3 linked regions of the Homo sapiens genome follow. The protein of the gene in region 2 purifies or fractionates together with the protein of the main gene of each other region. This does not show direct contact. Each region holds a gene or a part of one and is shown on either strand. Other genes may lie near its edges.

What was found.
Region 1: the proteins of ZNF385C (region 2) and ZNF638 purify together in Homo sapiens (affinity purification with mass spectrometry, with the first as the bait; one large-scale study listed by BioGRID). This does not show direct contact.
Region 3: the proteins of ZNF385C (region 2) and TUBGCP6 purify together in Homo sapiens (affinity purification with mass spectrometry, with the first as the bait; one large-scale study listed by BioGRID). This does not show direct contact.

Annotation. Positions count from the first base shown.
Region 1 is NC_000002.12:71,330,390-71,334,626, forward strand, and holds the start of ZNF638 (zinc finger protein 638), read left to right. Parts: upstream 1-1,392; 5' UTR 1,393-1,486; intron 1,487-4,237.
Region 2 is NC_000017.11:42,091,834-42,095,479, forward strand, and holds part of ZNF385C (zinc finger protein 385C), read right to left. Parts: intron 1-3,646.
Region 3 is NC_000022.11:50,220,954-50,224,599, forward strand, and holds part of TUBGCP6 (gamma-tubulin complex component 6), read right to left. Parts: intron 3,640-3,646; coding exon 3,558-3,639; intron 3,468-3,557; coding exon 3,379-3,467; intron 3,304-3,378; coding exon 3,188-3,303; intron 1,640-3,187; coding exon 1,501-1,639; intron 1,150-1,500; coding exon 1,075-1,149; intron 922-1,074; coding exon 1-921. UniProt on the Homo sapiens protein: Component of the gamma-tubulin ring complex (gTuRC) which mediates microtubule nucleation.

The sequences.
Region 1 (4,237 bases), on a different chromosome or scaffold from region 2:
AAAAGGATTATATGGTTTACTTGGAGAAATGTCAGTAATCAGAAAAGCAAATAGCTAATGTGTGAAAAAAGAAAACATTTCCTGTTACATGCAAATAATGTGTTTGTATGAATATAAAGAAATGTATGGAAGGAAACTTATCAAATGTTAACATGGGTTATTTGGTGTTTAGGGGGAGCTTGTTGGCTTTTTCTTTGTTGTTTTTGATTTGTTGTCCCTAGCAGGATTTTTGGTTTGAAATGAAAATCCGATAAGATATCTTTTTAAAACGACTTTTCTTTTTAGTCTTTCAAATGCTTGTTTTAATGTGAATAAAAGAAATGCATTTGCTTGAGTGCTAGGTAAAACCGATGTGTGAGACTCAGGGTGGGTGGTGTGATTTGTGTGGTATGCATACGGCAGGGCTTGTAGCTTTACCAGATTTTGAACAATGACTGGGTTTTCATATTGGTGTAGTACAGCCACCTCGAGAAGATAAAACATTGCATAACACAGTTCTTTAACGTCTGTCATCCCAAGGTTTTCCATGGGTAAAATGGAGATTACAAATATCTACCACACAGATAGGGCTTTTTATTGTGAAATGACAAAAGGATTTTCAGAGTGTTAAAGTTTTAGCTGAATAGCTTTGGTTGAATTCTACTTTACAGTTTTGAGTAGCTATGACACACATCATTGCCATAGGGATCAAAAGGTGCAAGGTGACAGGATAAAAGCAGGCAAAATCTTGACCATACAAAGCATTATATTAACGTGCTAGGCGCGAATATAACCTGTTATAATATAATGTTGTTATTATTATTTGAGATGGAGTCTCACTCTGTTGCCCAGGCTGGAGTGCAGTGGTGCAATCTTCCCTCACTGCAACCTCCGCCTCCCGGGTTCAAGCAATTCACCTGCCTCAGCACCCCCTAGTAGCTGGGACTACAGGCGCGCGCCACCGGCTATTTTTTGTGTTTTTAGTAACGGGGTTTCACCCTGTTGGCCGGGCTGGTCTCGAACTCCTGACCTCAGATGATCCACCCACCTCGGTCTCCCAAAGTGCTGGGATTACAGGCGTGAACCACCGCGCCTGGCCATATAATGTTATTATTGAAGGCACAAATGATCAGGGAAGACTTCATGAAGGAGGTGAGACAATATAGGTCTTAAAAGGATGAGCGGTTTGGAGAGGACAGGCACAGAACCAGCAAAAGAGTGAAGACGGCGCTGGAGTTTTTTTTTTTTTTTGCCGCACGCCTTCGCCGCCACCACGCGGGAGCGCCCCTTCCGGGAGCCCGCTCCGCCCGGCTCTTCTCGGGCTTCGGGCGAGCGCGGTGCCAGCGGTACGCAGGCGCCGGGAGCCTACGAGGGCTCGCAGGAGCTGGGAGGCGCGCATGCGTGCAGCTCTTTGGAGGCGGTAGCGTTTTCGGCGTCGAGACTGGAGGCTGAGTGCTAAACTGTGTGGGGCGCGGATGGGATCCAGCTGTTAGTCGGGTAGGCATAGGTAGGACCGCTGCCCTGTGGGGAGTAGGGGGTTGGAAGGCGGAGGCCGGTATCGTGGGGGTCCTGAGCCCTTCCTGTGAGATCCGGGCCGACTATTGTATCTGTGTCGCAGCGGCTCCGCACAAAATGGCGGCGGGCAGACGGCGGGGGCGGGAGGAGGTTGGGGGACCCCCGGGATGGGAAGGGAAGCTGTGCTGTGCTGCCCTGCTCCGTCGTTTATTCACTTCGCTACCCGGGAGGGCCCGTCCGGGTACTCGTGAAGGACCCTGCCTCGAGAAGAGCTGCCTGACGCCGTTGCACTGGGCCGAGGATCGTGAAGAGCCCTTTGGCGAGGCCGAGGCGGCCCCTTCCCCAGCAGCGCCCGGCCTGCCGAGGCTGCGCTGGGCCTGACAGCCGAGGAAGCGGTGGTGAGGGAATGCCGAGCAGGGAGGAAGCGTTCCCGTCGGGCCCGAAGAGGCGGTGGAGTTTGAGCCGAGCCCTCTGACCAGCGACATTGTGCAAGAAGCGTGGAGAGAAGAGCGTGTTTGTGTTTGGGGTTGGGGAGGGGGTGTCGGGATGAAGGAGGGAATGTTAGGATCCAGCGGCTTTTCCGGGCTGGTGTTCTGTGCTGCGTAGTGCAGGTATGAAACCAAAGAAAATATCACCTCTGTGGGAGACTGAGGACTCATAAATGGTTGTGATACCTAACAGTATTTCCAAATTTCTCAGAGGAATTGTGAAAACAGAACGTTAGTGAATTGTTTTTGTGTGATTCTTAGCTTGGGCCCCGTTCTCTTAAAGGAAGGGGGAATGTATATATCACAGACTGGAATCCTTGAGAACGTTTGAAATAGATCTTTTGTTGTTTGAGGTAATTGTTAATGAGGGATACTTCAGTATTACAAAATCATGGATTGAGCTATAGAGTGAAGGCTACCTGAAGCTAATTTTTCTTAATCTTAAAATTTGTCCTTAGGCGAAGTTTGGGGCCAGGACCAGAAATTGTAGTAGTTTAAAGGAGTCCCGATGAAAAACTTGTCACCAGGATCCAGCGATTTATGTTCAAGTACTTTTTCCAACGAGCTCTGGAATTTTGCACAAAAAATTTTCTGCTTTTTCCCCTCATTTGTTGTAAAGGATTATTTTTTCAGGGATGTTGTGCTTGCTGGTTCAGATTTACAATTAAAAATTGATAACCTGGAGAAAAGGATTGACCAAAAAAAGGTGAATTTAAGGAAGTTTTCGGAGAAAAACAAACATGTAAATGACATTCAAATAGCTTTAAATTTTGTTAATGATTAGACATTTGAGACTTAGTGGACTTATGTTGCTGTCTTTTAAAAAAGTTTGACAGCATTTTATATTTTATTTTGTACTCCATATTCTGTAATATGTACTTCTAAATAATTACAGGGCGTCCCAGCATGTTATACATTAAAATATGCTGGGCCATTCCTTCCTTGGGGATTTATTTGTCTTGGAACCAAGAAAGGGTAAATATAACAGTTGGAAGAAATCACAAAATCTTATTCGTTTTTATTAACTAGTTTTCATAATGTGTTTATGGTCACATATTTATTGTATATTGGTTGTATTTGTTTTGTAATCCTTTTTTGCATTTTGTTTTGGAGGGTGTATACGGCAGGTACTCTAGGTTAAAAAGGTTTAGGTACTGTAGTTTAAAAAAGTCATCACTTTGTACTTGACTATCTTAGGGTTTTTCTTGGGTGCTCTTAAGTAGGTGATCTCCGGAAATTTTGTTTTTATGTAAGTGGAAGAAAATGAGACAAGTAGTTTAGTGGAAAGAGAATAGGCTTTGCAGTCGGAAGATCTGGATTCACATCTCCCTTTTCCTCAGTATGTGTGAGACTTTGGTAAATTATTTTAGTCTTTCTTGAGCTTTTGTTTCCTTATCTCTAAAATGGTGACATTATTACTTCCTGCTTGGGATTTTTGTGAGTGACTGTTAAGTGAGACAGTGTATGGAAAGCTCGTATTCCTTGGCACATACTAGGTGCTTAATGTTAGCTGTTACTTGTATTTCAAAATTGAAGTGCTTAGGCAGCATTGTTTGATAGAAAATTATAATCTGTGGGTATTCTCTTCTAATTAAACGGCTTAAAAGGATTTAGAGTAATAGAATTTTGGAGTTGAAAGGCCCTCTAATCTAACTTTCATTAAAATATTTTGTGCTTCTATAAACTTTTTACATGCCTTTCTTGTAGAACTTATCAATATATATTGTAACCATTTATATGATTGTTACGTTAGTCTTTGTATCTTTCCCAGTGCCTGGTATGTATTAGATGCTCAGATGTTGAGTGAATGAACTCAGCTGGTAGTCACCAGAGCCTGGACTCTAAATCATGCTCTTTCCACTGTACCTTAATGTATACTGATTAAGGTTTGGACTAAATTTGTCCAAATCCTTAATAAAATGCCTTATATACTTAGAAACAGTACTTCCAGTATTGGTACCCAGTAACATAGCTTGGGCTGTTTTGCAAGGAAACAGGCGCTAATGAATGCTGCCATGTAGTGGTTTTAGAGACTCTCCAAATTGAAAGTAATTATGTTTGTGGCTAAAGCTAATAAGCCCTCATGTGTATCCAGCTTATCTACTCTTAATTGCTTTAACTTTGTTTAGTGTTTTGAAATTTGTGATGGAAAATTAAAATGGAAGGAAAATAAGTATATAGAAGATGAGAAGAGAATAATGGAAAGGAAAAAGAGTGAGGAAAAGGTGAGATGTAGAAATAAAACACACAACTGT
Region 2 (3,646 bases):
CTGCCCCTATATTCACCTCCCAGCCAGAGACTCAGGGACCAGGAGTCTTGGTGTGTGAAGGTAGAGGAGCTTTGGGTGAGGGGGAGATTCAGGAAGAGCCAGGGGTGACTGCAGCCTGTGACTCTTTTAATCAAAGGAGCAGCTCCAGCATGGTCTGGCAAGGAGCCCTGGCTGTGAGGGGTGAGGAGACCCAGGTTCCAGTCCAGGTTCTGCTAGAAGATTGATTCTGCGAAAGTTCCTTTGCTCTCTGAGCTTTCATCATCTACAAAAAGAACTTTGATCTTAGCCAGGCCCAGAGGTTCATGACGGTAATCTTAGCACTTTGGGAGGCCGAGGTGGGTGGATCACCTGAGCTCAGGAGTTCGAGACCAGCCAGGACAACATGGCAAAACCCTGTCTCTACTAAAAATACAAAAAATTAGCTGGGCATGGTGGCATGTGCCTGTAATCCCAGCTACTCAGGAGGCTGAGGCACGAGAATCTTGTGAACCTGGGAGGGGGAGGTTGCAGTGAGCTGAGACTGCACCACTGCACTCCAGCTTGGGCAACAGAGCAAGCGAGATTCGTGTCAAAAAAAAAAAAGAATTTTGATCTCTGCAGGTGCTCATAGGATGGGATGAGGCAGTTCTGTATACTGCAAAGTTCTGTACAAAATCAGGGGATAGGAGGCCCTTTGGGGTCCTAGGGAGATTGTTCTGGAGATGGATTCTTACAGGGGCCCCGAGCCCATCAGAGAATTATTCCTCTGCTAAAGTCTCACTGGAGGACTGGCTCAAGCCTCTGCCAACAGGGAGAGTGGGCAGGCTTCTCCCACATTCCAAAGACCACACCCCATGTGTCCCTCTTTAGGAACCCCTAGAAAACCCAAGGGTTCCTGTTCCCAGTGCCTTTTCCTGGCATTTCCTCTCCTCTCAGCAGGGAGTGGGGGAGTGTCCCATCCCCATCCTGCCCTCCAGGGCCAGAGCACTCAACTTTGGGGCTGGGGAGGGGGTCAGCTGGCATCAGATGCGGGACTGAACAGAGCTGAGATCAGAAGGGTAGAGAAGTCTGGGGCTTGGGATGTAGGAGAGACATCTGGGAGCGGGGGGCGGGGGTCCGGGGAAGGCTGGACAGGGCAGGGGGCAAGGCCAAAGCTGGGTCTGGCCTCTAGCCTGGGCATCTAAAGTGAGAAGAAGGACCTGTGGAGTCAGTCCTTGCCCCACCCAAGGAAATCTTAATCCAATAAACAAACAGCCAACACAGCCGCTCCTGTGCAAGAAGCCGTGGGAGCGATGGGGAGGCCACAGAGGTGGGGAGGCCAGGAGAGGGCAGGGAGGCTGTTTAAACAGGCCCCTCGGCCTGGGGCAGTTGGCAGAAATATTTGGAACAGGGTGGGGAGCACAGCTGTGGTTTGGAGCAGGAAGCTGGGGCCCGGGGTGGGTGGGCTGAGCTTGACTGCTTCCAGGAGAAAGAAAAGTGTCAATTCAGCCCCACTCTGGTCAACGCCTCTTCTGAGGGAGACTCCAAGTCCCAACACCCTTCCCTCAGTTCAAGGTCAATCAGGTCAACCAGACAGACAAGGGGCTCTATCCCTTATCTCCCAGAGTGATGACTCTGGACCCCCAGCCCTGCTCCCAGGCCTATGACCCTGGGCCTCATCACTGAAGAAAGTTTCAGAGTTCAGAGCCGAAACCCCGGAGTTCTCAACAGAGGAGTTAGAGGAGATGAGCCATCAGCTCTTTATTTTTTTTACTTTTTATTTTATTTTATTTATTTTTTTTTTTTTGAGAGAGGGTCTCACTCTGTCGTCCAGGCTGGAGTGCAGTGGCACGATGTTGGCTCACTGCAACCTGTACCTCCCAGGCTCAGGCAAATCTCCTGCTTCAGTCTCCCGAGTACCTGGGATTAAAGGTACCCATCACCAAGCCCGGCTAATTTTTTGTACTTTTTTAGCAGAGACGAGGTTTCACCATGTTGGCCAGGCTGATCTCTAACTCCTTGACCTCAAGCAATCCACCCACCTTGGCCTCCCAAAGTGCTGGGATTACAGGTGTGAGCCACTGCACTCGGCCCATCCACTCTCCCTAGGACGTGATATTCCCTTTCCTGCCGCCTTGCCTGGCAGTGGAGGAGCCCAGAAGTGATCGTGGCCCCCTGGGAGGCATTATCACCTTTTTTTTTTTTTTTTGAGATGGAGTTTCACATTTGTTGCCCAGGCTGGAGTGCAATGGCGCAATCTTGGCTTTCTGCAACCTCTGCCTCCCAGGTACAAACGATTCTCCCACCTCAATCTCCCAAGTAGCTGAGATTACAGGCATGCGCCACCGCGCCCAGCTAATTTTGTATTTTTAGTAGAGACGGGGGTTCACCATGTTGGCCAGGCTGGTTTCGAACTTCTGACCTCAGGTGATCCACCCGCCTCAGCCTCCCAAAGTGCTAGTATTACAGGCGTGAGCCACCGTGCCTGGCTGTCACCTTCTTTCAGGACTCTTGGCTCTCCTTTTGCCGAGACTCCTCAAGAGACTAAGGCAGAGAGTCAGAGGGATACATGTCCAGACTGACAGGCAGATATAGAGAGAGGTGAAGATACAGAAAGACCCACCCAGAGAGATAGCCACGCAGTCAGACACTGAGAGTGGGAGTGTGAGAGAGAGGGACAGAGAGAGAAGGGGTAGACAGAGGAGGCAGAGAAAAAGGAAGAAGAAAAGACATAGAAAGACTCACAGAAAAAAGAGCTAGACGGGTGGAGAGGAGAGACAGAGATAACAAAGGACAGGGTCAGGAGAGGGGAAAGGACACAGATGGGGAGCACACAGGAGGCGCAGGGCCAGACACACTCACAGGCCGAAGCAGAAAGAGGCTCACGAGAACTACACAAGGACAGACAGCCTCAGGACCCAGAGACACTCTCCTGGGAGACGTGGGGGGAGCCAAAGTGCTTGGGGGTCGAGCCCCACTGGGGGTGGCCTCACCAGGGCAATGCTGCTGCCTCCTGTCCCAAAAGCTTAACCAACCGCTGCCGGCATCTGGCCCCCAGCCACCCTCTAGTAAGCCAGCCCTTGGCCACTGGAGCCAGTGGGTCACCCAAGGTGAATGAAAAGTCACCAATAAGGGACAGTGAGAGTGTGACTGGGGTGAAGGTATGGGTGTCACAAGCCATGTGTGTCAGGGTGGGTCTGACCTGGGGTGGGGTTTAGGAGCGCACAACCCTATACACAGACCTCTGGGGGTTAGTGCAGGCGGGCATGCGTACCTGAGTGAGTTTGTGAGTGTCTGTACACGTGTGTGGATCCAGTTCCATTAAGAGCCTCACGATGCTAATGAGGCCAACGTGGCAGGCTGTTCCTCAAATAGCCCAATCAGAAACAATGAGTGAGCAGAGACAGCCACAATAAAGGTTTCATGCCTCTTCTGAACAGACGGTGTGTCCAGGTGCCACAGGGCACTTGACTACAGTCAACACCAGCGTACCATTCATTCCCGCTGGGGATGACCCCCGCCGCCTGGCCAGCTGACCCCACAGTCTCCCCTGTCCCAAGCCCAAACTCCAAACTCATGGGAGAACCCACATGATAGACACATGGGCCCTCCCGGGTGGCAGGCGCAGCTCCCTCTGAGAAGGGCAGCCAGAGGGATGGTGGGGTCCAACCCTGGCTTTCCCCCAGGC
Region 3 (3,646 bases), on a different chromosome or scaffold from region 2:
CCCGTGGGTATTCCACCGTGGCCTGGTGGGAGCCACATCTGACACATTCTCCCCGACCCTGATGCTGGCGTTGGACACATGTCCATGGATGTTCCACCGTGGCCGAGTGGGAGCCACATCTGACACAGACTCCCCTAAGCTGATGCTGGCATTGGATACGTGTCCGTGGGTGTTCCACCGTGGCTGGGTGGGAGCCACATCTGACACATTCTCCCCGACCCTGATGCTGGCGTCAGACACGTGCCCGTGGGTGTTCCACCGTGGCCGGGTGGGAGCTATTTCAGAAGCGTAGTCCCCTGTGGGAAGACCACCCCCTGACACCTGCCCAAAGAGCCGCTCTGTGGGCTGGCTGCTCCCCTCCTCCAGAGCAGCACGCCTGGGTGGGTGTGAGGGGAGCAGAGTCTCCCGCGAGGCGGAGCCACAGGCATCCATCTTCCCACAACTGTCCTCCCACAGCTGTAGCCCTGAGCTGCCCAAGCTGCACTCTGCAGCCTGCAGGGGCCCTGGTGCAGGTGAGGTGGCCACAGCTGGCCTCAGGACAGTACTAAAGTCGTACTCCTGTGGCCTGGAGGGCTGAGTGCTGGCTGCTGCGGGTGCCTCCCCAGGAGCTGAGGGGGGCAGGTCCAAGTTAATGGTCTGCAGCGCCACCTCCAGGAGAGGGACCATGCCAGTCTGCACGGACGGCTCAGCCCCTGGGCCCACAGGTAGGAAGTCTCCAATGCTGAGGCTGTCAGAGAAGGGTCTGGCCCCCTCCGCCTGCTGCAGCCCCCTGCCACCAGCCCCCACTGCTAGAGGCTTAAGGGGCTGTGGGGTCAGCAGGCCTGGCCTGTTCCAGCCATCCCAGGCAGGCGAGTGTTGCTCTGCAGACCCAGAATCACAGCCTTGGCCTCCCTCTGGGTGCTCAGGGCCCGGAGACGTGACCTGAAACACAGGTGACATCAGACCCAGTCTGGTCTCAGGACCCCCCAGCCCTCGAACTGTCCCCCAAGTTCAGCTCTGCAGCCATGACCAACACCAGGTGCCGAGGGCTATGGGAAAACCATAGGGCACCCTGGGTTCCACTCTGCCGCTTACCTGGGGGTGCACGCTCAAGAGGACGTCTGGCGGCTCCTGGGGCTGGTGAGCCTCAGACACTGCTTTCAGCATCTCCTGAAATTCAAGCCAGAGGGGTGACTGGCCAAGCCGGAGTCAAGCACAGCCCTACCCCACACAAAGCCACAGCCCCTACCGCCCATGGCAGCCATGTGCACTGAACCAGACAAGGCTTGTGCTGGGCTCCAGTGGGACGCTGGGCCTGCAAAAAGTACTCCAAAACCACGAGCTCCTCACCACCTGTATCTGTGCAATTTGGTGGCACACGGGGAGAGAGAGTGCTCTGCCGCAAACGCGAAAGCCACCAGCCCTCTCCTAGAAGAGCATGTAGGTTTGTGTGCAGTCTCAGGGGGTTTCCAGACCCCCAAAGCCCAGGGGAAGAGCTGCCATCTGAAGCCGCAGACATACCTGAATGTGTTTCTCATCTTCTAAGAGAAAACGAAGCCGTGCACTCTCCAGTCGGTGCCTCTGGATTCTCCACAGTGCCTTCTGCTCCCGACGAGCTGCCTCTGCAGAGAGCTTGCTGTAGTGGTCGACCAGTGCCTGCCTGAAGCCACACACCAGAGAGGACACGGCCACAAGAGTCACCCCACCCCATCTACCTGGCACCCCTCAGGCCAGGATGGTTCTCCATAACAGAGGCCCCAGTGGGCCCCCGCCCCCGTCTCCCCCTACCAGGGGCTGATAGCTCTGGGCCCTCACAGCACCTACAGGGCAGCACCAGGCAGGCCCTTCTACCTGCCAGGCTGGGAGACCCTGGTGAGTCAGCGTCCAGCCAGGGCTCAGCAACATCTGCTGGACAAATACCAGAATGAGATCCTGTGTGGCCTGAAGCAAGGGGTGAGCAGGAGGCCGAGGGCCCCAGGCCTCTAAGAAGTTAGGCCTCTTCCCCTTCTACAGGTACAAACCTGAGAACTGAAAACTAATGCAAAAAAGCACATGAAGCAAAACCAACACAAACGCTTTATTTGCTGAATTCAAAGCCTGCTTCACCGATCGTGCCCCATGATTTTGAGCTTCTCACCAGCAGGCAACTGGGCTCAAACCTGGACTGGCCAGCTCTAATTTGGCTGCCACAGGCCAGAGACGTAGTGTCTAGGCCTGGTTTTCTCCATGTGTTAACAGGACAGTATCGACTGACATACATGCATGAACACGTACTCATGCATAAATGCATACACGGACACACGTGCACACAGGCACGCGCACCCCTCCACACACATCCCTCACTCGCTCCATAAAGAGATCTAAGGTTGGGACCTACAGCATCGCGTGGGGCTGAGCAGGAAGCGGCCAGCCCCTCCCGTGAGGGGCTCTCTCCAAAACCCCAAACAGCCCCTTGAAGGATCCAGCACTACTCAGCCTGGGACAGCCTGATGACAGCACAGGACAGGTTGATAACAGCACAGGGAGACAGACGCAGATGCTGTGCTGGACAAATGCCCTGTCTCAGCCGAGCGCGGTGGCTCGCGCCTGTAATCCCAGCACTTTGGGAGGCCGAGGCAGGTGGATCACCTGAGGTCAGGAGTTTGAGACCAGCCTGGCCAACATGGTTAAACCCCGTCTGTACTAAAAATACAAAAAACTAGCTGGATGTGGTGGCGGATGCCTGTAACCCCAGCTACTCAGGAGGCTGAGGCAGGAGAATTGCTTGAACCTGGGAGGCGGAGGTTACAGTGAGCCGAGATTGTGCCACTGCACTCCAGCCTGGGTGACAGAGCAAGACTCTGTTTCCAAAAAAAAAAAAAAAAAAAAAAACGCCCTGTCTCTGTCAGACCAATAACAGACTTAAAAATAAATAAGGAAGGATGTTCAGAAAGAAGATAAATAAAGAGACAGGACCCCAAACAGTACGCAGGCCTCGCCTGGACCCTAATCCATACAAACCACCACAAGACAACGCGCAGAACAGCTAAGGATGCCTGGATAAGGCAGAACGCCCACAGCCACTCTGGGTTCAGCATATTGGTCTTTCTACCTTAATGTATGTTTGAAGGTTTTCAAAACAAAAAGTAAAATCATCAGTAAGATTAAGCCAGAGCTATGGGGCCCCTGCCGCACTGCACCCCTGGGCCTGGAGCCCGGGCTGCCCTACCTCGCCTTCCTCTCCAGCTCCTCCTCCAGGGACTTCAGCCTTCTCTCCCTGTCTCGGAGTTCACGGGCGTAGCTGAAGTCATCATCCAGCTCCTCCTGCCTGGCCGCCTGGCGTCGCTATAAAACACATAGAGCCTGGCCTGTGAAATCAGAACTGACAGGCGTGACCCCGCAGGGACAGGTCCTACCCACCTCCTGGTCCTTCACAAATTGTTCTTTCAGCCTCTGAAACTGCTCACGCTTCCGGGCATCCAAGGCCATCCGTTCTGACATCTGCCGGTCTACATTGGGACAGTAAGGGGCGCACTGTCACAAGGAGGCCCCAGCAAGGCCCCCCGGAACTGCAGAAGGGAGGACTTGGGGCCACTCACCACTCAGTGCACTCAGGACCCTGGATGCTGCTTCCCGGGCATGAGCGATTAATTCTTGTTTTGCAATTTCCATACGTAATTCCTGAGAA